4 linked regions of the Homo sapiens genome follow. The protein of the gene in region 3 interacts with the protein of the main gene of each other region in a pairwise test. Each region holds a gene or a part of one and is shown on either strand. Other genes may lie near its edges. The genes, in order: SLC19A3, SPAG4, CYP4F2 and SLC17A8.

The links.
Region 1: the proteins of CYP4F2 (region 3) and SLC19A3 interact in binary tests that used the Homo sapiens proteins (3 or more experiments, as listed by UniProt).
Region 2: the proteins of CYP4F2 (region 3) and SPAG4 interact in binary tests that used the Homo sapiens proteins (3 or more experiments, as listed by UniProt).
Region 4: the proteins of CYP4F2 (region 3) and SLC17A8 interact in binary tests that used the Homo sapiens proteins (3 or more experiments, as listed by UniProt).

Annotation. Positions count from the first base shown.
Region 1 is NC_000002.12:227,683,263-227,687,028, forward strand, and holds the end of SLC19A3 (thiamine transporter 2), read right to left. Parts: 3' UTR 501-3,766; downstream 1-500. UniProt on the Homo sapiens protein: Mediates high affinity thiamine uptake, probably via a proton anti-port mechanism. Has no folate transport activity. Mediates H(+)-dependent pyridoxine transport.
Region 2 is NC_000020.11:35,611,176-35,618,851, reverse strand, and holds the start of SPAG4 (sperm-associated antigen 4 protein), read right to left. Parts: upstream 3,024-7,676; 5' UTR 2,849-3,023; coding exon 2,545-2,848; intron 2,516-2,544; exon of another isoform or gene 2,465-2,515; coding exon of another isoform or gene 2,440-2,464; intron 1,717-2,439; coding exon 1,612-1,716; intron 1,333-1,611; coding exon 1,266-1,332; intron 1,074-1,265; coding exon 1,012-1,073; intron 766-1,011; coding exon 722-765; intron 403-721; coding exon 377-402; intron 241-376; coding exon 132-240; intron 1-131. UniProt on the Homo sapiens protein: Involved in spermatogenesis. Required for sperm head formation but not required to establish and maintain general polarity of the sperm head. Required for anchoring and organization of the manchette.
Region 3 is NC_000019.10:15,877,477-15,881,086, forward strand, and holds the end of CYP4F2 (cytochrome P450 4F2 precursor), read right to left. Parts: intron 2,422-3,610; coding exon 2,288-2,421; intron 2,193-2,287; coding exon 2,128-2,192; intron 1,953-2,127; coding exon 1,870-1,952; intron 1,461-1,869; coding exon 1,295-1,460; 3' UTR 547-1,294; downstream 1-546. UniProt on the Homo sapiens protein: A cytochrome P450 monooxygenase involved in the metabolism of various endogenous substrates, including fatty acids, eicosanoids and vitamins.
Region 4 is NC_000012.12:100,402,064-100,409,121, forward strand, and holds part of SLC17A8 (vesicular glutamate transporter 3), read left to right. Parts: intron 1-81; exon of another isoform or gene 82-187; intron 188-276; coding exon 277-416; intron 417-532; coding exon 533-682; intron 683-1,974; coding exon 1,975-2,107; intron 2,108-7,058. UniProt on the Homo sapiens protein: Multifunctional transporter that transports L-glutamate as well as multiple ions such as chloride, sodium and phosphate.

The sequences.
Region 1 (3,766 bases), on a different chromosome or scaffold from region 3:
GGGTCATTATTTAAAAAATTTTTTTCATTACTGAGATACCAAATAAAAAATTTTAATTTAATTTTTCAATGTCAGGTCTACTTATTATTATTAATTTTTTTGAGATGGAGTCTCACTATGTTGCCCAGGGTGGTCTTAAACTCCTGGGCTCAAGCGATCCTCCCTCCTCAGCCTCCCAAAGTGGTGGGATTCCAGGAACAAGCCAAGGTGCCCAACCAGGCCCACTTATTTTTTTCTTCTGTTGTTTGTTCCTTTTAATTATAAATGCACATTTAGTAATCCATTCACATTGCCAAAAATATAAAACTATCATAATGGTTGCATGGCAAATCTCCAGCTCCTTATTCTTCAATGCGAATTTATTTCCCAAGAGGTTAAATGCTTTTTTGTAAAAGTCGTATTTTAATTTACTGGTGGGTTATTCATTTGGTGCAAGCATCAAACACCATGAGAATGTGATGTCTCCCTCCCATTTCCCATTACTCCACAGTAGGCAATCATTGGTATGAGTTTCAGTTGTTTATTTATTTGTTTGATTGTTGGTTTGTTTGTTCAAGACAGGGTCTCACTCTGTCATCAGGGCTGGAGTGCAGTGGCATGATCTCAGCTCACTGCAACCTCCACCTCCTGGGCTCAAGCGATCCTCCCTTCTCATCCCCTCAAGTAGCTGGGAGTCCAGGTGCAAGCCACCATGCCCAGCTAATTTTTGTATTTTTTGTAGAGACAGGGTTTTGCCATGTTGCCTAGGCTGGTTTTGAACTCCTGAACTCAAGCAATCCACCTACCTCAGCCTCCCAAAGTGCCAGGATTACAGGCATGAGCCACCGTGCCAGGCCTCATTTGTCTTTTTAGAAAAGTTATACGCATATATAAGCCAATACAGATATTTTTGTCCTTTTTATACAAATGCTGAGTTGCTGCGTTCATTATTATTTTGGTGCTTGACTTTTTTCCACTTGATAGTAGAGCTCTTAGAGTTCTGTGTCACTAAAGATCTTCCTCATTTTTTAGCAGTTAATTTTGTTATAGGTGAATATGTGAAGGAATCATAATGCATTTTTTAATCCACTTTGGGTCTCACTCTGTCGCTCAGGCTGGAGTGCAGTGGCACAATCTCAACTCACTGCAACCTCTGCCTCCTGGGTTTAAGTGACTCTTATGCTTCAGCCACCGAGTGGCTGGGATTACAGGCATGGACCACACCCGGCTAATTTTGTTGTTTTTAGTACATACAGGGTTTCATCATGTTGCCCAGGCTTGCCTCCAATTCCTGGCCTCATGTGATCTGACCGCCTCAGCCTCCCAAAGTGTTGGGATTACAGGCGTGAGCCACTGCACCTGGCCTCCTTTCCAATTTCTGACCTCTGATTTTTCTTGTTTGTCTAATTGTGATGCCTAATGCCTCCAGAATAATAAGTTAAAAAAGAAGGATAATAGACTGGGTGTGAGGTGGCTGAAGCCTGTAATCCCAACACTTTGGGAGACCGAGACGGGCGGATCACCTGAGACCAGGAGTTTGAAACCAGCCTGACCAACATGGTGAAACCCCGTCTCTACTAAATATACAAAAATCAGCCGGGCATGGTGGTGCACGCCTGTAATCCCAGCTACTCGGGAGGCTGAGGCAGGAGAATTGCTTGAACCCGGGAGGCGGAGGTTGCAGTGAGCTGACATTGCGTCATTGCACTCCAGCCTGGGTGACAGAGCAAGATTCTATCAAAAAAAAAAAAAAAAAAAAAAAAAGAAGAAGAAGAAAAAGAATAGCGGCCATTCCTTCCTTGCCTTTAATGTAAGTAGGAATGTTATTAGTTTTCTCCACTAAGTGAGTGCATTGATTCTTGGGCTGGATCTTAGTCCAGTGAAGAATTTCGGGATTTGGAGAGGAGTATACTTGAGAAACATATTAGTCCATTATCACATTGCTATAAAGAAACACCTGAGACTAGATAGTTTGTAAGAAAAGGGGTTTAATTAGCTCACAGGCTATATAGGAAGCGTGGCAACATCTGCTTCTAGGGAGTCCTCGGGGAATTTTTACTCATGGCAGAAGGCAAAGTGGGAGCAGGCATCTTCACGTGGCCAAAGCAGGAGAAAGAGAGAGTGGGGAGGTGCTACACACTTTTAAACTACCAGATCTCACGATAACTCACTGTCATGAGACCAGCACTGAGGGGACGGTGCCAAACCATTCATGAAGGCTTCACACCCATGATCCAGTCGCCTCCCAGCCGGCCCCACCTCTAACATTGGGGATTACACTTCAACGTGAGATTTGGTGGGGACACAGATCCAAACCATATCAAAATCCAATTAAAAATTTTTTTGTTTGTTTTAGACACAGGGTCTTGCTATATTGGCCAAGATGGTCTCATACCCCTACCCTCAAATTAACCTCTCACTTCAGCCTCCCAAAATGCTGGGATTACAGGTGTGAGCCACAGCTTCCAGCCTTAATATAAATCTTGACTCAGCATTCTTTATTCTCACTGTCAGACTGCTCAATGCATCCCTTATTGAAGTTTCTTGAAGTTTCGAAAAACAGGTATGTTCAGATAATTTTCAGCAGAATTCATCAAAAAATGTTAACAACTCTTTAAAATTTTTACACATTTTATTTAGCACAATTGCTACCATTTAAAAATCAGGTGTTTTGGCCAGGCATGGTGGCTCACGCCTGTAATCTCAGCTCTTTGGGAGGCCGAGGCAGACAGATCACCTGAAGTCAGGAGTTTGAGACCAGCCTGGCCAACATTGTGAAACCCCATCTCCACTAAAAATACAAAAATTAGCCAGGCGTGGTGGTGTGCACCCATAGTCCCAGCTACTTGGGAGGCTGAGGTAGGAGAATGGCTTGAACTCAGGAGGTGAAGTTTGCAGTGAGCCAAGATCACGCCATTGCATTCCAGCCTGGGTGAGAGAGCGAGACTGTCTCAAAAACCAAAACAAAACAAAATCAGGTGTTTTATTCCACTCCCCCCATCAGTGTTTTCTTATTTCTAATACTTCTAGAAACCTCCTTTAAGTTTTCCTATTTTAGACAGACACCACACAGGTGCTCTTTTTTGGGAGGAGGGGGATGAGAGTCTTACTCTGTTGCCCAGGCTGGAGTGCAATGGTGCAATCATAGCTCACTGTAGCCTCTGACTCCTGTGCTCAACCCATCCTCCCACCATGGCCTCCCAAGTAGCTGAGACTACAGGCACACACCACGCTGCCCAGCTAATTTTTTAATTTTTTAGTAGAGTCAGGTGTCACTGTGTTGCCCAGGCTGGTCTTGAACCTCTGGCCTCAAGCAAAACTCCCACCTTGGCCTCCCAAATTGCTCGGATTACAGGAGTGAGCCACTGCACCTGGCCCATAGATGCATTAACACCTGTCTATGGTGGTGGAGAGAAGGCTCACTGCCTCTCCCAGGCCACTGGGAAATGACCTTGTGTATTCTGCAAATACACAAGAGGATCTGAAGCTATTCTTGAGGGAGACTTTCAACAGCAAAACTCAGAGCACAAAATGGAAAATAATCATAAAAAAATTAAATAATAATACTATCAAATCATAACGTGAATAATGCTGTTATTAGAGTTGAAGAGAAGCCCTTAGAAATGGGACAAACATTGTAATTCTCTTAGAGAACTGTAACTTAAACAGAAATACACTTAATAGAAGAGGAAAGAAAATGGTTCATGTGACACAAAGGTCCCATGTGTTGACTTCTTTGGTAAGATCAAATAAGTATTTAAGCCTAGCAATAGGGTCAGTCCAGTTA
Region 2 (7,676 bases), on a different chromosome or scaffold from region 3:
GGGAGCTGGTTGCTTTGGGATGGACTTCGTGGGCACCGGGAGAAATCCCGCAGGGCTCTGGGCGGAGCTTAAGTCTCAGGACCCTGGGAGCAGGGATCCATCAGGGGTTTCCAAGGTGGGCCGGGGCTCACCTCGCTGTTGGCTGCCCGAACAGTGGACACCTCCTTGTGGAGTTTATCCAGCTCGGCCTGGAGCTGCTGCAGCTGCTGCCCCTGGGAGCGCACGCGCTCGTGGTACTCACTGGAGGTGGGAGGTGGGCGCCGTGGGGTTGGCTCCCTGTCCCCCTGGACACCTCCCAAAGGCCCCCACGCCTTCAAGGTTCTCAAAGAAGCAACTTTGAGCCCCCCAATTTCCCACCCTAGGTGCCCTCTTTCACCTTAGAGTCAGCATCTCCTTAGGTTCCTGTTGGATGAAGGGACAAAACACAGAGCCGCTCAGCTCCCGTCGTCCTTGCTCCTACCTCAGCCTGGAAACGGCCAGGGCTTCCTTTTTGAAGACTGTGTCCCCTTTCCTCGACTCCTCCTTGACCTCCCAGTATCAGAGCCCCCAAGAGACCCTCAAGCACAATCCCTCATAAGTCTGTTTATATCCAGCCCTTTCTTAAGGATTGTAGCCTCTGGCACTACCCCCACCCCAGCAGACCGACAGTCCAGGGGACCCCCACAATCTCCGGGTTCACAACCTGCCAACCCCCTACCCCAAGACAGTCTCCCCAACTCACATTCTCCAAAGGAGAGACCAGGTACAGAAGCCCCAGCCAGAATGCTGGAGAAAGAGAGGGAGGGGTCTCAGAAGGAAAAGGAAGAGAATGGGTTTCCCCGGCATAGGGGGACAGTGGAAAGAGGCTTGAGGGGGTTAAGCCTGGGGAGGACCGTGGGAGTCTGAGGGGGAATTAGGGGGTTCTGCAGGGGAATGCCAGGAGCTGCAGGACCGAGGATGTAGGAGAAAATGTGCTGGGTTTGCCTCCAAAGCACCCAGGGCAGGGGCTCCAGGGAATTCACTGCCCCTCACCTGACAGAAAGAGGCTCAGCAGCGACACAGCCGTGAACAGGAAGCGGATGGAACAGACCTCCCTGGGGAACCGGAGGGAGGCTGAGGCCCCGACCTGCTCAACCCTCCAGTCCCCACCCCAGGGTCCTAGACCCAGCTCTTGCCAACATGACTCAATCAGATCTGAATCGGCTCAAGCGCCAGCAAGGTTCCGGCCCTGCTCCCCACCCCCTCCAAAGAGCTGTTCCTGGGGCGCCAGCGTCCCTTCCTCTGACCTGTACATGCTGACCAGCACGTCTCCTGCCAGGGATAACAACACGCTCAGCCCCTGGAAGAGCAGGCCTGAGGCCAGGACAGAGGGTCAGAGAGGGGCCCACGGCAGGGAGAGGCGGGGCTCAGCCTGCGTGGTGTCCGGGTTCAGAAGGGGCTTGGGAGGGGCCGGGGGTGGGCCTGGGGCTCAGGAAGAGAGGGTCGGCTAGGATAATTGGATGGGGGCTAGGAATGAGTTGAGGCTCGGAGAGGGGCTCGATACTCAAACGGGGGCCGGGGGCTCAGAGAGAACTGGAGTTCGGAGAGGGGAACCCGAGGGTCAGAGGGGATCGCAGCTGGCCTGGCCCGTACTCAGAAAGCTCTTGAACACCCGCGGGGGAGGCATCTCCTGCCTCAGATCCAGGGTCGGGAGAAGGTCGAGCGGCTCCTCAGAGACTACTGGAGACCCAGTCGGTTCTGCGGGAACCCAAGGGCTCCACTGGGGCCTTGCGGACCACAGACCTATTTTCCCCTCGAGACCGGGCCGCAGATTGCTCAGTCCACAAGCCAGACAGCTGGGAAGTCTCTCACAGGCTTTGGTCCCACCGCAGCCCTATCCCGGCTCCAGCTCCGCCCTCTGAAGCCCCGCCCCTCAGGGAGGCTCCGTCAAGAGTTGGTCTCCTGGCCGGGCGCGGTGGCTCACGCCTGTAATCCCAGCGATTTGGGAGGCCGAGGCGGGCGGATCACCTGAGGTCGGGAGTTCGAGGCCAGCCTGATTAACACGGAGAAACCCCGTCTCTACTAAAAACACAAAAATTGGCCGGGCATGGTGGCGCACGCCTGTAATCCCAGCTACTCGGGAGGCTGAGGCGGGAGAATCGTTTGAACCCGGGAGGCGGAGGTTGCGGTGAGCCGAGATCATGCCATTGCATGGCATGGGCAACAGGAGCGAAACTCCGTTGCAAAAAAAAAAAAAAAAGAGTTGGTCCCTCCCCCAAACGGATGACCCGCCCCCAGCCTTAGATCTTGGTGGAACCCAATTGTCCTGGGAGCCACTCACGCTAACATTGAGGCCGCGCCCCCTCAGTGGCACCCAACCACAAGATTTTCCCCGCCCCTTCCCATAACCGTCCAGGACACCGAGGCTCCGCCCCTTAAGGGATCTCATTTAGCACCATCCCTTTACCCTACAGGACCCACCTTGTAGGAGGTGCCCAGATATCATCTTAGCCCCGTCCCCGCCCAGCACCGCCCTTTAGGCCCCGCCCCCTCCACTGGCTCACCCGGGGTCGACCCCGCCCGCACCCGAGGCCCCGCCCCTCACGGTTGCCGCGCCACAGGCTGTCTGCCAGTTGTGGCTCCGAGGCGCTGGCTTCTGCTGAGAGCTTCCTGCCCATGTGGTTCCTCCGGGCACTCCCGCGCTCAAGGCGGGCTCACCGCAGCTCGGGCCCCGGGCTCTTCTGCCCTCGGGCTCCCCAGGCCCGGGCTCCGCTGACCGGAGCCCTTTGCTGTCCTCCGAGGTGATGCTCATTGAGCTGTTCTCGCTGAAAAAGTTGGGCGTGTGCTTGCGCGAGGACGAGGCCGAGCCCGGGCGGGAGCTTCGCCGCATCCTGACCCCCTGCTGCCTAGTCACTGACGCTAAAGCCGCCGCTGCGGTCGCCAAGGCCCTGGGGCCTCCTTCAGCCGCTGCGCGCCGCGGGGACCCCACGGACCCTGCGTGAAGTCGGCAGGCCCCGCGGCCGCACCTGCCCTCCCGCTGTGTCCCGGCCGGCTGCTGACGTCACAGAGGAGCCTCGGTCTCCGCGGGCTGCCCTGGCCGCGCGTCACGGAGCTGGCCGTGACGTCACCTGGAGCCGTAGCCATGGCAGCCTCTCCTTCTGACTTTGTTGTTGTTTAAGAGACAGGGTCTTTCTCATTGCCCAGGCTGGAGTGCAGTGGCCTGATCATAGCTCATTGTAACTTCGAACTCCTAGGCTCAAGCGATCCTCCCGCCTCGGCCTCCCAAAGCGCTGGGAGTACAGGCGTCAGCCACCGCGCCCGGCCTCTTTTACAGCAAGCGATGATGTCACAGCACTTCCCAGAAAACCCCATCTAAAATGGCACTCAGTCTATAACAGTTTTTTTCTTTCTTTCTTTCTTTCTTTCTTTCTTTCTTTCTTTCTTTCTTTCTTTCTTTCTTTCTTTCTTTTTTTTTTTTTTTTGAGATGGAGTCTCATTCTGTTGCCCAGGCTGGAGTGCAATGGCGCGATCTTGGTCCACTGCAACCTCCGCCTCCCGGGTTCAAGCGATTCTCCCGCCTCAGCCTCCTGAGTGGCTGGGATTACAGACATGCACCACCATGCCTGGCTAATTTTGTATTTTTAGTAGAGACGGGGTTTCTCCATGTTAGTCAGGCTGGTCTTGAACTCCCGATCTCAGGTGATCCACCCGCCCCGGCCTCCTAAAGTGCTGGGATTACAGGCATGAGCCACTGCGCCCAGCATTTTTATTTTTATTTTATTTTTATTTTTTGAGACAGAGTCCTGCTGTGTCGCCCAGGCTGGAGGGCAGTAGTGCAATCTCGGCTCAGTGCAACCTCCGCCTCCCGGGTTCAAGCGATTCTCCTGCCTCAGCCTCCCGAGTAGTTGGGATTACAGACACCCGCCATCATGCCTGGCTAATTTTTGTATTTTTGTAGAGACGGGGTTTTACCATGTTGGCCAGGCTGGTCGTGAACTCCTGACCTCAGGTTATCCGCCTGCCTGGGGCTCCCAAAGTGCTGGGATTACAGGAGTCAGCTACTGCGCCTGGCCTCTTTTAAAGCAAGTGATGACGTCACAGCACTTCCTAGAAAACCCCATCTAAAATTGCACTTAGCAAATACCAGTTTCTATCCCCCTTCCCTGTTTTGTTTTTCTCCTCAGCACGTGTCACTAACATGCTATATATTTCATTTCTCTCTTTCTTTGAGATGGAGTCTCGCTCTGTTGCCCAGGCTGGAGTGCAGTGGCATGATCTCAGCTCACTGCAACCTCCATCTCCCGGCCTCAAGCAATCCTCCCGCCTCAGCCTCCCGAGTAGCTGGGACTACAGGCTTGCGCCACCACACCCAGCTAATTTTTGTATTTTTTGTAGAGATGGGGTCTCGCTATGTTGCCCAGGCTGGTCTTCAACTCCTGAGCTTGAGTGATCCACCCACTTCTGCCTCCCAAAGTGCTGGGATTACAGATGTGAGCCACCATGCCTGGCCCATTTATTTATTTCCTTATTGCCTGCCATGCCCACTAGAACATAAACTTAATCAGGGCACAGATTTTCATTCACTACTGTATCCTCCAGCACCTAGATAAGCCTAGCATGTAGTAGGTGCTCAAATATTTGCAAATAATGAATGTTAAGAAGGAGCAGGGCATCACTCAGGGCACTTCTAAATACTTAGTCCCCTTTGCTCTGCAAGCCCTTCAGCCCCCTCCTCTCATCCTAGACATCAGGTCAGAGAGCTCATTCAGGATCTGTGGGTCCCTCCTCCAGACCCATTTTTCCCAGGGGTCTGTGGGTTGAGAATTCAGCACCCACCAATCGTCATACCCACACTCAGGCTGCACACCTGAGCCATGGAGGAAAGAATGAGGAATCAGATGGTCACAGCCAGAAGACTAGAGGTCCCCAAACTCTTGCTATGTAACAGAATATCAGTGCAGCTTATAGAAATTCAGCTTCCCAGGCACACCTTGTGATTCTACTGCAGATACTGCAGAATTTCTGAGTTGGCCCAGGAATGTGCTTTTGTTTTGTTTTTGTTTATTTTTTAGGCAGAGTCTTGCTCTGTGGCCAGGCTGGAATACAATGGTACGATCTCGGCTCACTGCAACCTCTGCCTCCTGGGTTCAAGCAATTATCCCGCCTCAGCCTCCAAAATAGCTGGGATTACAGGCATGTGCCACCACACCTGGCTAACTTTTTTTTTTTTTGTATTTTTAGTAGAGACGGGATTGCACTATGTTGGCTAGGGTGGTCTCGAACTCGGGACCTCAGGTGATTCGCCCACCTCGGCCTCCCAAAGTGCTGGGATTACAGGTATGAGCCACTGTGCCCGGCTGGAGTGTGCATTTTTAACAACCACATTTGTGATCCTGGTTAAAGACCACATTTTGGGGCCAGGCTTGGTGGCTCACGCCTGCAATCCCAGCACTTTGAGAGGTTGAGGTGGGCGAATCACCTGATGTGAGGAGTTTGAGACCAGCCTGGCCAACATGGTGAAACCCCATCTCTACTAAAAATACAAAAATTAGCCGGGCGTGGTGGCCCGTGCCTGTAGTCCCAGCTACTTGGGAGGCTGAGGCGGGAGAATCACTTGATCCCAGAAGGCAGAGGTTGCGGTGAGCCAAGATTGTGCCACTGCACTCCAGCCTGAGCCACAGAGTGAGACTCTGTCTCAAAAAAAAAAAAAAGAAAAAAGAAAAACAACAACCACATTTTGAAAGACAATGCAGTATGTCATGCACAAGTTGCACAGCTAGGCAAACAGGTCCAGGTAGAGGAATAACACTGCATCACATTAGAATTCCCAAATCCTGCCCTCGAGTGCAGTCCTCTTAACTGCCATCTCACAACTTCCTTAGAATGTGAGGAGCTGGGGCCGGGCATGACGGCTCACGCCTGTACTCCCAGCACTGTGTGAGACCCAGGCAGTGGATCACTTGAGGTCAAGAGTTCAAGACCAACCTGGCCAATATGGTGAAACTCCATGTCTACTAAAAATACAAAAATTAGCTGGGTGTGGTGGCGTGTGCCTGTAGTTCCAACTACTTGGGAGGCTGAGGCAGAAGAATCGCTTGAACCTGGGAGGCGGAGGTCATAGTGAGCTGGGATCGCACCACTGCACTCCAGCCTGGGTGACAGAGCAAGACTTCGTCTCAAAACAAAACAAGAATGTTAGGAACTGGAAGTGGCAGTTTTTGAGGGGTTGAGGCACACGGACAATCTGTTAAGCTATGTTCTAGCCCAGAGGGGAGATGCCCATGCCAGGCTCCAGAGGGATGATCTCAATACCTTGCTTCATTAGGTGCCACAGGGCCCACACGGAAGAAGGGAGAGGAAGGCGAAATCACTGCAAACTACAAATTCTGGTCCATACCACCCCATCTCTGCCTCTGCCACGTTTTCTGTCCGTTAACTCCTTTGGGTCCTTTTAATAGAGGTGAGCCGGGCACAGTGGCTCACGCCTGTAATCCTAGCACTTTGGGAGGCTGAGGCGGGCTCACAAGATCAGGAGTTCATAGACCAGCCTGACCAACATGGTGAAACCCCGTCTCTGTACTAAAAATACAAAAATTAGCCAGGCGTGGTGGTGCACACCTGTCATCCCAACTACTGGGGAGGGTGAGTTAGGGAATTGGTTGAACCTAGGAAGCGGAAGTTGCAGTGAGCTGAGATCGCACCACTGTACTCCAGCCTGGGCAACAGAGTAAGACAGTCTTTTTTTTTTTTTTTTGAGACAGAGTCTTGCTCTGTCACCCAGGCTGGAGTGCAGTGGCACGATGTTGGCTCACTGCAAGCTCCGCCTCCCAGGTTCACACCATTCTCCTGCCTCAGCCTCCCGAGTAGCTAGGACTACAGGTGCCCACCACCAAGCCCAGCTAATTTTTTGTATTTTCAGTAGAGATGGGGTTTCACCATGTTAGCCAGGATGGTCTCGATCTCCTGACCTCTTGACCCGCCTTCCTCAGCCTCCCAAAGTGCTGGGATTACAGGCATGAGCCACTGTGCCTGGCTGACACTGTCTTAAAAAAAAAAAAAAGACTGTGGGGAGGTGAAGCCTTCCTCCAGCATCTGAGGGTTTCAGGTCTAATCTGGGCCTTTTTAAAAAACAGAACAGCCTGTCCCTCTTGTCTGATGTGGTTTAGACCCTCAAACTCATTTGAATACATAACAACTGGCCAGGTGCAGTGGCTCACTTCTGTAATCCCAGCACTTTGGGAGGCCTAGAAGGGCTGATCAGCTGAGGTCAGGAGTTCAAGACCAGCCTGGCCAACATGGTGAAACCCCATCTCTACTAAAAATAAAAACATTAGCCAGGTATGGTGGTGCACATCTATTAATCCCAGCTACTCAGGAGGCTGAGGCAGGATAATCGCTTGAACCCGGGAGGTGGAGGTTGCAGTGAGCCAAGATCACACCACTGCACTCCAACCTGGGTGACAGAGTGAGACTCCATCTCAAAACAACAACAATGGAGAAATAGGCAGAACAGGGCTTTCCAACCCAGTACTGAGATGGAAAAGCTGAAGCACAAGAAGGGACCATGACTGGCTCAAGGTCACACAGCAAGACCCAGCTCCTCTGACTGTCTAATCTTATCTGCTGCTGCTGCTGCCGCCGCCCAGTACATTCCTTGTGTTCAGGCCAAACTGTACACATTACATGGCCCAGAACACGTTCAGCATTTCTTCCCACTG
Region 3 (3,610 bases):
GTCTGTAGGGGTTCCCAGGTAATCTGATGTGCCTAGGGCTGAGACTCGCTTTGAAAATCATGTCCTTGATACGATAAGGCATGACCTCTGATGCCAACTGCTCAGATTCACCCCTGACTCCACCCTTCACTGAGTGACCTTGAACAAGTGAGTTCATCTACAATCTGTAAGATCGATGTGAGGATGAAATCAGCATTTACCTGGGGGAGCTGAAAAGTCACCTTCTCCCTTCTCAGTGATCTACTTCTGTTAATACGACCAAAATATTCAGTGTCTGTGGAATTTCCAGATCATAACTGTTCTATGAAAGGTGTCTAACCACACCTGTATCTTACATGAATATTTGTGCATCTATTGCTGTGAAAATGAGATCTCTACCCCAAAAGTTACTTGATGAAGAATAACTCAATTTGTTACTAATAGTCAATGTATATGAAGCTAATTCTTACAAAGTGAGACAAAACACTTTTATTTTCTAATATGATGTCTTTTTTTAAATTAAGACTGATTTGAACACTTAACACACACATTTTGAGGACCACAAAATAATGTTTCCTAAGATGATTTAATGTCATGGAAAGATGCTCACAGCATATTATTATATGAACAACCTGGACAGAAAAAAAATGTATGTGAGATAAAATAGCAAATTTTTTTGATTGAGGTAGAATTCACATACCACGAAATTCACCATTTCAAAGTGTCCAATTCAATAGCATTTAGTGCACTCACAGTGTCGTGCTACCTTCGTCACTATCTAGGTCCGGAACATTTTCACCATCCCGGGAGGAAACCCCATACTGATTAGCAGTCGCTCCTCAGTCCCACCTCCCCACAGCTGCTGAAAGCCACCAATCCGCTATGCATCTCTTCAGATTGGCCTGTTCTGGAAATTTCGTATAAAAGGACAGTACACTATGTGACCTTTTGCATCTGACGTCTTTCATTCAGTATCATGCATTCAAGGTTCATCCACAGTGTAGTAGGGATCACTGCTTCATTCCTTTTTATGGCTGTGTAATACTCCATTGTATGGATGGACCACATTTTGTTTATCCTTTCATCTGGTAATATATAGCTTGGGGTTGTTTTCATCGTTTGGCTACTGTGAATAGGGCCGCCATGAACATTCACGCACAAGCGTCTTTCTGTTTGAACACTTGTCTCAATTATTTTGAGTAGATATCTAGGATGGAATACAGGACTGTGGAACAGGGTCTTAGGGTAATTCTAGGCTTCACTTTTGATGAATCAGGGGTCATTTTAGTGGGGTCAGAGTGGGTCTCTGCAGAACTCAGCTCAGGGGCTCCACCCGCAGCCAAAGTCCGCCCTCTGCGCGCAGGACCAGCTCCGGCTTCCTGCGGGGCTCGGTGTGGTCAGGCAGGACGCGGAAGCGCAGCAGCGTGAGCGCCAGGACCACCTTCATCTCCGCCATCGCGAACGTCTGCCCGATGCAGTTCCTAGGGGAGGGAGGTGGGAACTCTGACTGCACCCAGGAGCCCCATCCTGGCCCCATCAAGCCGGTAACCTGGCCTGGGACACCCAACCCCACCTAGAGCAGTTTGAGGAATAGAGAAGGGGGTATCCGTGCCTGGATCCCCATGCGGGCTTGCATATCCTGCAAGCCTAGCCGAGCTCCAACCCCCAGCCTAGACCAAGGTGGGGTAGGAGGGGGCTCTGAGCACACCACAGACCCTTCTAGGACCAACCCAACCGTACTCTATGGACCTTTTCCTATAAACTCCAGAGGAGGTGAGGGAAAGAGAGCTGGAACTTGGACCATCTACAATGTCCCCCTTTTCCCCACTGTCATGCCCAGACCCCTGCACCCATCAACCCGTTCCCACCTCAGACACAGGCCGCCCTTACCTGGGCCCTGCCGAGAAGGGAATAAAAGCCAGAGGTGACCTCTCCTTGATGTTCTCTGGGTCAAAGCGAAAGGGGTCGTAGACCTGGAGGTGAGACCAAGAAGGGTTGTTGGGTGGGGTCTCCCAGTCCGCCAGCCTTGGAGAGACAGACAGTTGTGTGTGTCTTTGAGGGAGGTGATGTTGGATACTCCTGATCAAAACCCTGCCCCCTCCTCTAGGAGCCTTGGAATGGACAAAAACAGAGAGAGGGGCCCCGCACCTCAGGGTCCGGCCACACAGCTGGGTTGTGATGGGTTCCGAAAACACTGATGAGGCAGATAATGCCTGTGGGAGAGAAGGGAGCAGTCAGGAGAAGGCCTCCTTCACTGAGGGGCCCCTCTTCCTACCCAGGAGACTCCTCCCCGTGAGGCTGTGAGCACCTTTGGGGATGACCCGGCCGTCTGGGAGCACAATGTCCTGGGTGACATGGCGGGAGATGACCGGGACTGGGGGATGCAGCCGCAGGCTCTCCTTCATGCACATGGTCAGGAAGGGCAAATGGGCCAGGTCGTCCCTAAGGAAACACCCCAGCCCCAATCCTTATCAAGGGAGCAAAGACACAATTCTCCAGCTTCTCTCTGTTTGCAAGTGAGACCTTTTCTCCCCGCAATAAAATAAACTTTTAACAAGAATTGTTACAAAGTCGCAAGAATAAAAATAGTGTGGCACTGTGGCAAAAATGAGAAAACAGACCCATGGAACATGAGGGAGAGCTCAGAAAAAGACATGAGAATAAGTGAAAACTTCACATTTGATAAAGACAGCCCCTGCTCAAACCAAAATCCTGGGAAACTGATGGATTTTACAGTTGTAAAAGAAAAAAGTGGATCAATTTAACTTCACAGAAGTTGAATATGCTCAAGATGGTAGTTTTTGCAGATAAAGGATAGTAATGAAAAGTACCCTCCAAAAGTTGAAAGGCAATATTTTGCAACCCAAGACAGAAAAAAAAAAATCAATTTTGGCTGGGCGTGGTGGCTCATGCCTGTAATCCCAGCACTTTGGGAGGCTAAGGCAGGTGGATCACAACATGAGGAGATCGAGACCATCCTAGCTAACACAGTGAAACCCCGTCTCTACTAAAAATACAAAAACTTAGCGGGGTATGGTGGAGGGCACCTGTAGTCCCAGCTACTCGGGAGGCTGAGGCAAGAGAATGGCTTGAACCTGGGAGGTGGAGGTTGCAGTGAGCTGAGATCACACCACTGCACTCCAACCTGGGCGATAGAGACTGCATCTCAAAAAAAAAAAATCAATTTTAATACACATTCTTAAAAGTAAATATTTTTAAAGAATCCAAAGAAAAAGAGCAAAAAAATAAAGGAACCACTTCCATAAAAAGAAACAAACATCAACACGTGAAAGAGATGTTCAACCTCACTCTTATTTAAAACAATGTCCATCAAAAGAAGAAATATGAAGATTGGCATAGATTTTAAAATTTAATAATACATTAGTAGTATTGGTAAAGTTATGGGAAAACTTGTGCCATCAAACTCAGCTAATAGGAAAGGATTTGCAATGATAATTAAAATTGTACAGTGCAAATGTTCTTTGATTCAGCAATTGCACTTCAGGGAATTTGTCCTGCAGAGATGCTTATACATGCAAGGAATGGTCACTGTGCACACATGCTGACTGCCTCATGTCCACTTTTAGCAAAAGGTTGGAAACAAGCCACATACACATTGATGGGAAGATGT
Region 4 (7,058 bases), on a different chromosome or scaffold from region 3:
TTAAATACCAGTTAACAAGAGGAACGTCAACAAAATACTTACCCCTAGCTGAACATACTGCCATTTGGAAATATTGTAAAGATCCTTTTGTAGTTCATAAATGTGATAATTGGGTGTTCACGTGCATGTATGAGATGTCTGAGTCCCTCAAACCTTGTTACAACATTGGTACATTACCCATTTTACCTGAAAAAAATATATATGGTAAAAATTGAAAAATTTAGAAACGGAAGAAAATGAGACCATATAACCCAGCCTTTTCTTTTTTAACTGCAGGCATGTTTGGGATTATTTGGTACATGTTTTGGCTGTTGCAGGCCTATGAGTGCCCAGCAGCTCATCCAACAATATCCAATGAGGAGAAGACCTATATAGAGACAAGCATAGGAGAGGGGGCCAACGTGGTTAGTCTAAGTGTAAGTATAAAAAGTCAGATGAAGACTTACCTTTTTTCATAAGTGATTGTGTTGCCTTCTTACAGAAAAAATGTCAATATCTTTACTAAAAATATCATGGTATTTTTACTCCCTAGAAATTTAGTACCCCATGGAAAAGATTTTTCACATCTTTGCCGGTTTATGCAATCATTGTGGCAAATTTTTGCAGAAGCTGGACCTTTTATTTGCTCCTCATAAGTCAGCCTGCTTATTTTGAAGAGGTCTTTGGATTTGCAATAAGTAAGGTAAACACACAGATGCTCCAAATATTTTTGAACTTTAAATCTCTTGATTCTACAGAGAATAACTTTGTATGATAAAATAATTAAATTGCTGATCATAATTCATAACAGTTCTGTGACACCTAATAGCCTGGCTGTCAGACAAGTTATACATTCTATGCATAGTATGCATAGCTGTTTAATTTCTTCTTAGCAAGGATCAGAGCCGTATTAAGCTGCTTTAAAGATTTATGTTGTACCCAATCTTAGAGTGTTTTTGAAGCTAGCTCAAGGACGGCATATTAGGCAAGGATAAAAAGATTTGAGGGTGTGGGTTTTCTTTTTTTCCTGTAAGCTACTCAGTGAGTAGCAGTAAGAACCTTACCATTCATTTTGCAGAACACCCCTTCTCCATAATGGTGGCTATAGCAGTAACAATCATTGCTTGCAATGGGTTAGAAAGAACCTCTTTCTGCCAGGCGTGGTGGCTCACGCCTATAATCCCAGCATTTTGGGAAGCCAAGGCTGGCGGATCACCTGAGGTTAGGACCAGCCTGACCAACATGGCAAAACCCTGCCTCTACTAAAAATACAAAAATTAGCTGGGCGTAGTGATGCACACCTGTGATCCTAGTTACTCAGGAGGCTGAGACAGGAGAATCACTTGAACCCAGGAGGCAGAGGTTGCAGTGAGGCGAGATTGCACCACTGCACTCCAGCCTGGGCAACAGAGCAAGACTCTGTCTAAAAAAAAAAAAGAAGAAGAAAAAATAAACAGAAAAAAAAGAAAGAACCTCTTTCAATGCTCCCAGACATTATCATCAAGCCAATTGTGTTTTAGGGAGGAAGGGTGTGGATAGTGAATCATCAACCATCATCATAAGATAAACCTCTTTCCTACAAGGGAAAGAACAGCAGCCGAGCAAACACAAATGTCTGCCTAGCTACAGATACTGTCAGAAGTGACCATGGAAGAGCTGGCATAATCATGAAATGGTGGCTGTCATCAGTCATCAGTGCTCACTGGGTGCCAAGTGCTTTATCTCCCATGTGCCATGCCCTCTGTGATGAATAAAAGTCATCGCTGCCCTCAAGGAGCTTCCAATCTGGTAGAGGACACAGATAGGTCTAAAATCATTCGCTCATTCATCATTTATTTATTATGAAATTCAGGCCTACCCAGCTCCCACATAATTAGATGCTTAAATTTGGTGGTGGTAGGTAGGGGGGCTGTGGAGTGGAGGTGGGCAAGGGAATTAGGGAGGCCCCTCTCTCAGAAATAATGACAAACTGCTTACTGTTTCTTTCCCTTCCAGGTGGGTCTCTTGTCAGCAGTCCCACACATGGTTATGACAATCGTTGTACCTATTGGAGGACAATTGGCTGATTATTTAAGAAGCAGACAAATTTTAACCACAACTGCTGTCAGAAAAATCATGAACTGTGGAGGTACTGTGGATTTCATAGATGGCTTAGGCAGCTTTTGTAGAATTAGGGTAAACTGAACTGCAGAGCATATATTAAGAAGTGACATTTAGTCATTGGAGTGGATCTTAAAGACCTCTAAGTCTGTCCCTCAGCAGACACTTGAGTGTTGTCCATCACAGTGCTGCCAAGAGGTCATCCAGCTGGGACCTTTCCATACATCCTTCCACATTTATTGTTTGCTTATGTAGTTTATTCCCTTCTCTGCTTACCTTTCTACCTATCCATATGTTTTGGTAAGAAACAGAAGAAAAGTAGTCTTTCCTCCTAGCCTATGCTTGTGCATGGGATATATGCACACACACACACACACACACACACACACACCATTCTCTTTCTTGATTTTATTTAGCTCCTGCTTTATGTTTTAATTTTGTAAAGACAAAGTGAATGTTAGGTGATTTCCCAAAAGAGGTAGGCGAAAGTAATTGTGAACCCCTACAATGTTCATGAGTGCTTTTTAAAAAACTCATCTTTTTTGTTTAGCTTTTAAAATTAACATTTATTGAATGCTTTCTGTGCCAGACACTAAGCTAAATCTTCTACATACATTATTTTATTTAATCTTCATAACCACCATGTGGAGCAGGTACTATTACTATATGCAATTTGCAATGAGGAAACAGAGGTAAAATAAAGGGACTTGCTCAAGTAGCAGATCCCTGCAAGGTATCAGGTAGGCCGGAGCCTACCGCCAAAGCTCTTAGTTTGCGGCTACCCCTCTGGAGGACTAGTCAGGATGAGCGAGCAGGAGGTAGAGGATAGCGCCACCTATGGGCAAGAGCTCACAACTGTGATATTAAGTTGAAAGGGACGGATTGCGTATGCTCTGACAGATAGCTAGGTCTGGCACATTTAGAAGTGAAGACTATACCGAGGGACACAGGAGCAGGCATGATCTGATCCCATAGCATTTCGGGAAGAAAGCCTAAGAGTCTGTTGGCACCTGTTCTCCCAGTTCCTTGACTGCTGGTCCCAGGCAGGGATGTGTGGGCCTGACCTTAGCTTGAACTTTCTTGTAGAGGACTGAGGGTTAGCGGATATAGGCCTGCTATCTGGTGGGCAGGAGGTGAAGCTCTGGGACATTGCATTCAAGTCCTCTCCAAGAGAGCTGTAGCAGCTAGAATAATGCCCATGTCCTAATCCTCAGAAGCTGTGAATATGTTTCCTTACATGTCAAAAGGGACTTTGCAGGTGGGATTAAATTGAGGTTCTTGAGATGGGAGTTTATCCTGCATTATCTAGGTGGGCCCAATATAATCACAATAATCCTTATAAAAGGAGGAAGGAGGGTCAGAGTCAGAAAAGAAGATGTGATGGTGGAGGCAAGAGTCAGAGTGATGCAGCCACAAACCAAGGAATGCAAGCAGACCCTAGAAGCTGGAGAAGACAAGAAGAGATTCCGCCATAGCACCTCTAGAAGGAATGCAACTCTGTAGGCTGCTGCCTTGACTTTAGCCCTGTACCATTTTGGATTTTTGGCCTCCAGAACTGTACAATAGTGCAGAGAGTATTTTAGAGGTGACATCTAATCATTGGAATAGATCTTAAAGACCCCTAAGTCTATCCCTCAGCAGATACTTGATATTTGTGTTGTTTTGAGCCACTGAGTTTGTGGTAATTTATTACAGCAGCAAATGAAAACTAACACAGCGGTAGGCAGGGTGCAGTGGCTCACTCCTGCAATCCTAGCACTTTGGGAGGTTGAGGCGGGCAGACCACTTGAGCTCAGGAGTTCGAAATCAGTCAGGGCAATAGTGAGAACTTTTCTCTATTAAAAAATAAAACATTTATAAAATGAAAACTAATACAGTAGCCAAAGCCTCACCCTTCTAATGATAAAATTCTGCTCCAGCTGAACAGCCCTCACCCAAGCCCTGAACATATCTTTCTGTCTCTGACTTTGCCCACTCCCTTTCTCTTTCCCTGTGAGTTCTCACCTTCACCTCTCAATCCAGTCCTCTCTATACATCCAGCTCAATTCTTCTCCTCTTATGTTTCCTTAAAGCCATGCCATTCTCCAGTGATCCCTCTGAATATGTCCACATGGCTAGATTGGCAACTCATCATGTGGTGCCTTATTGCAGCTCTCTCAGGAAAAGATTTTAGGCAGAGGGAATAGTATGTGCAATGACCCTGGGGCAGGCAGGAATGTGGCCTGTGTGAGAATAGAAGGAAGGGGAGTCAGAATGGCTGAGTGACGGGAGACGGGATCGGGATGTTTTTCTAGGGTCAGATCATGGCAGGCCTTGTCGGCGTATGCAGAGCTTGGGTTTTATTTGAAGTACATTGAGATGCAGATGATTTAAAGCACGGAATGGATATGATCTCATTTTTTTTTTTTTTTGAGACAGAGTCTCGCTCTGTTACCCAGGCTGGAGTGCAGTGGTGCAATCTCAGCTCACTGCAACCTCCGCCTCTTGGGTTCAAGTGATTCTCCTGCCTCAGCTTCCTGAGTAGCTGGGATTACAGGCATGGGCCACCATGCCTGGCTAATCTTTTGTATTTTTGTAGAGACAGGGTTTCACTATATTGGCCAGGCTGGTCTCAAACTCCTGACCTCAAGTAATCCGCCCGCCTCGGCCTTCCAAAGTGCTGGGATTACAGGCATGAGCCACCTCGCCTGGCCTTGCTTATTTATTTTTAATCTGGGGAATTATGCAGGGTACAAGAGTAAAAGAAGGGAGACCAGGTAGGAGGTGATTTCAGTTGTCCTGTCTAGAGAAGATGGTGGCTTAGACAAATGAGGTGGCAATGGAGATGGAGAGAGGGGGGTCAATTTCTAAATTCTCAGAGCCAACAGTTCTCATCTTTAAATTACATAATAATATTTACTTCAGAGGATAGTTATGAGAGTTAAATGATACAACGTATGAATGCACCTAGTGCGGTGTTCAACCTATAAAAAGTTCTCAACAAATGTTAATGCTGCTTTTTTTCTCCTATGTTCAAGACACAAAAAACACAGAAGTTTTTCAAAGAGTTCTTTAACAAATATCTGTGATTGTATTTCCTTTGGACAAAAAAATGTACTTCTAAACTGGCAACTTTAAATAAGTTTCTGGATTTTAAACACTACTTGCACAACCTCTTCTAAACCCAGATGCATTGGATATTCTTGAGCATATTTTGTGGGAATGTCTTGTTCCTATTTAATTCTGCCCCAGTACCTCTGCTGTTTCTCCATAATTGGTGGTGATTATGTTATGTTGTGGTGATGAGAACTTTCAAAGATGTTTAATTGCTAACAAAGTGCCTGTTGAGAGGAAATAGTTTTTTTTCTGCAGAAACTAGAAGGCATATGTGGAATCTTTCTGCCTCATCTCCCATCTTTAAAAAATACCTCTTCACATGGCTTTTCATGTTCATATATATATATATTTTTTTTGTTTGTTTGTTTTGTTTTGTTTTGTTTTTGAGATGGAGTCTCGCTCTGTCACCCAGGCTGGAGTGCAGTGGCGTGATCTCAGCTCACTGCAAGTTCCGCCTCCCAGGTTCACACCATTCTCCTGCCTCAGCCTCCCGAGTAGCTGGGACTACAGGCACCCGCCACCACACCCGGCTAATTTTTTGTATTTTTTAGTAGAGGCGGGGTTTCACCGTGTTAGCCAGGGTAGTCTCGATCTCCTGACCTTGTGATCCACCCACCTCGGCCTCCCAAAGTGCTGGGATTACAGGCATGAGCCACCGTGCCCGGCCATTCTTTTATATTTTGACATAGTAGGACCAGTGAGTTATATATAGAAAATAAAATTTTTAAAAAGACCATAATGGTCCCACTTTTTCTGCTTAAATACAGAGATGCTAGAGCAGAGATAACTACATGAAAACAAAGTTTTGTGCCATCAGTGAAGAATGCAGGTTGATTTGGAAATGATGAAGCACTGGTATGATCTTCCAGAGAATTTTGGTTGGCTTTTTGGTTTCCTACTAAGAAATATAGAAGGCATTTCTCATCTGAGAAGGATCACACATATCTTGGAGCCTGTCATCTTTTATTTCCATAGATTTTAATATGCCATTAAAATCATTTAAAGCAAAACAGATCACTTAAGACATGATGTTCAATTCATTCTGAATCAGGGTCTACGTCTATGATGCTTAAAGACAGATGCCAAATTCTTGTCCTGCCCCCTCTATAGAACATGCAAAGTGTAACTGAGGTCAAAAATTCTATTCTGGCTGAATCAGTTGCAAGTGTGAACTTCAGATTATTTTAATATGAAATAAAATATTTCTTAGGCCTTTAAGTCCTAGTTTTGTTTTTCTTGTCAACTCTAAATAGGTTCAATTTTAAGGATCTCCTGATTACCCCTAAAGTTGAAATTTTATCCTTAAGCTCCTGAAACATGCAGCCCTGTCTCTAGTATTTTAACTGTCAGTAGAAACCATTTAGGCTCTTAAATGCTTTTTTTTCCACTGGCAATCTGCTATTTGGCCAAAATTTTTTTTCTTACAGATGAACTGATGTATCATTTGTAAGTTTTATTCTTTATACAATGTCATCATTCTAATTCTTTGGGGGAATTGACTTTCTGCATGCTTCTGTTCAGAGTGTAAAAATAAAAGAAGTTTCAGCCAGATGCCTTGTTATTTAGGATAGGCACTTCTAAGACACATATAGTTAGTATATGAAACACTAGCTATTTTTCCCTATGTGTAGTCTTAAATGTTGAAACAAAATTAAGAACAAGTAGCAATGATATAAAGCCTATAGTTTTAAAAGTAAGACTTCCCTAATTACATTTCATCCTCTTTAGAAGCCATTTAAAACAATTATTAGTTCTTGCCCTTCTTTATAGTAGTGTTGAAGAAATAGGTTCAAAAAGGTAAATATTAATAACTTAACCATCATTTACGGTAAGTACTTCAGCTTGTGAATCTTATTTTCTTCTTTCTGGGTCCCATTTCCTTT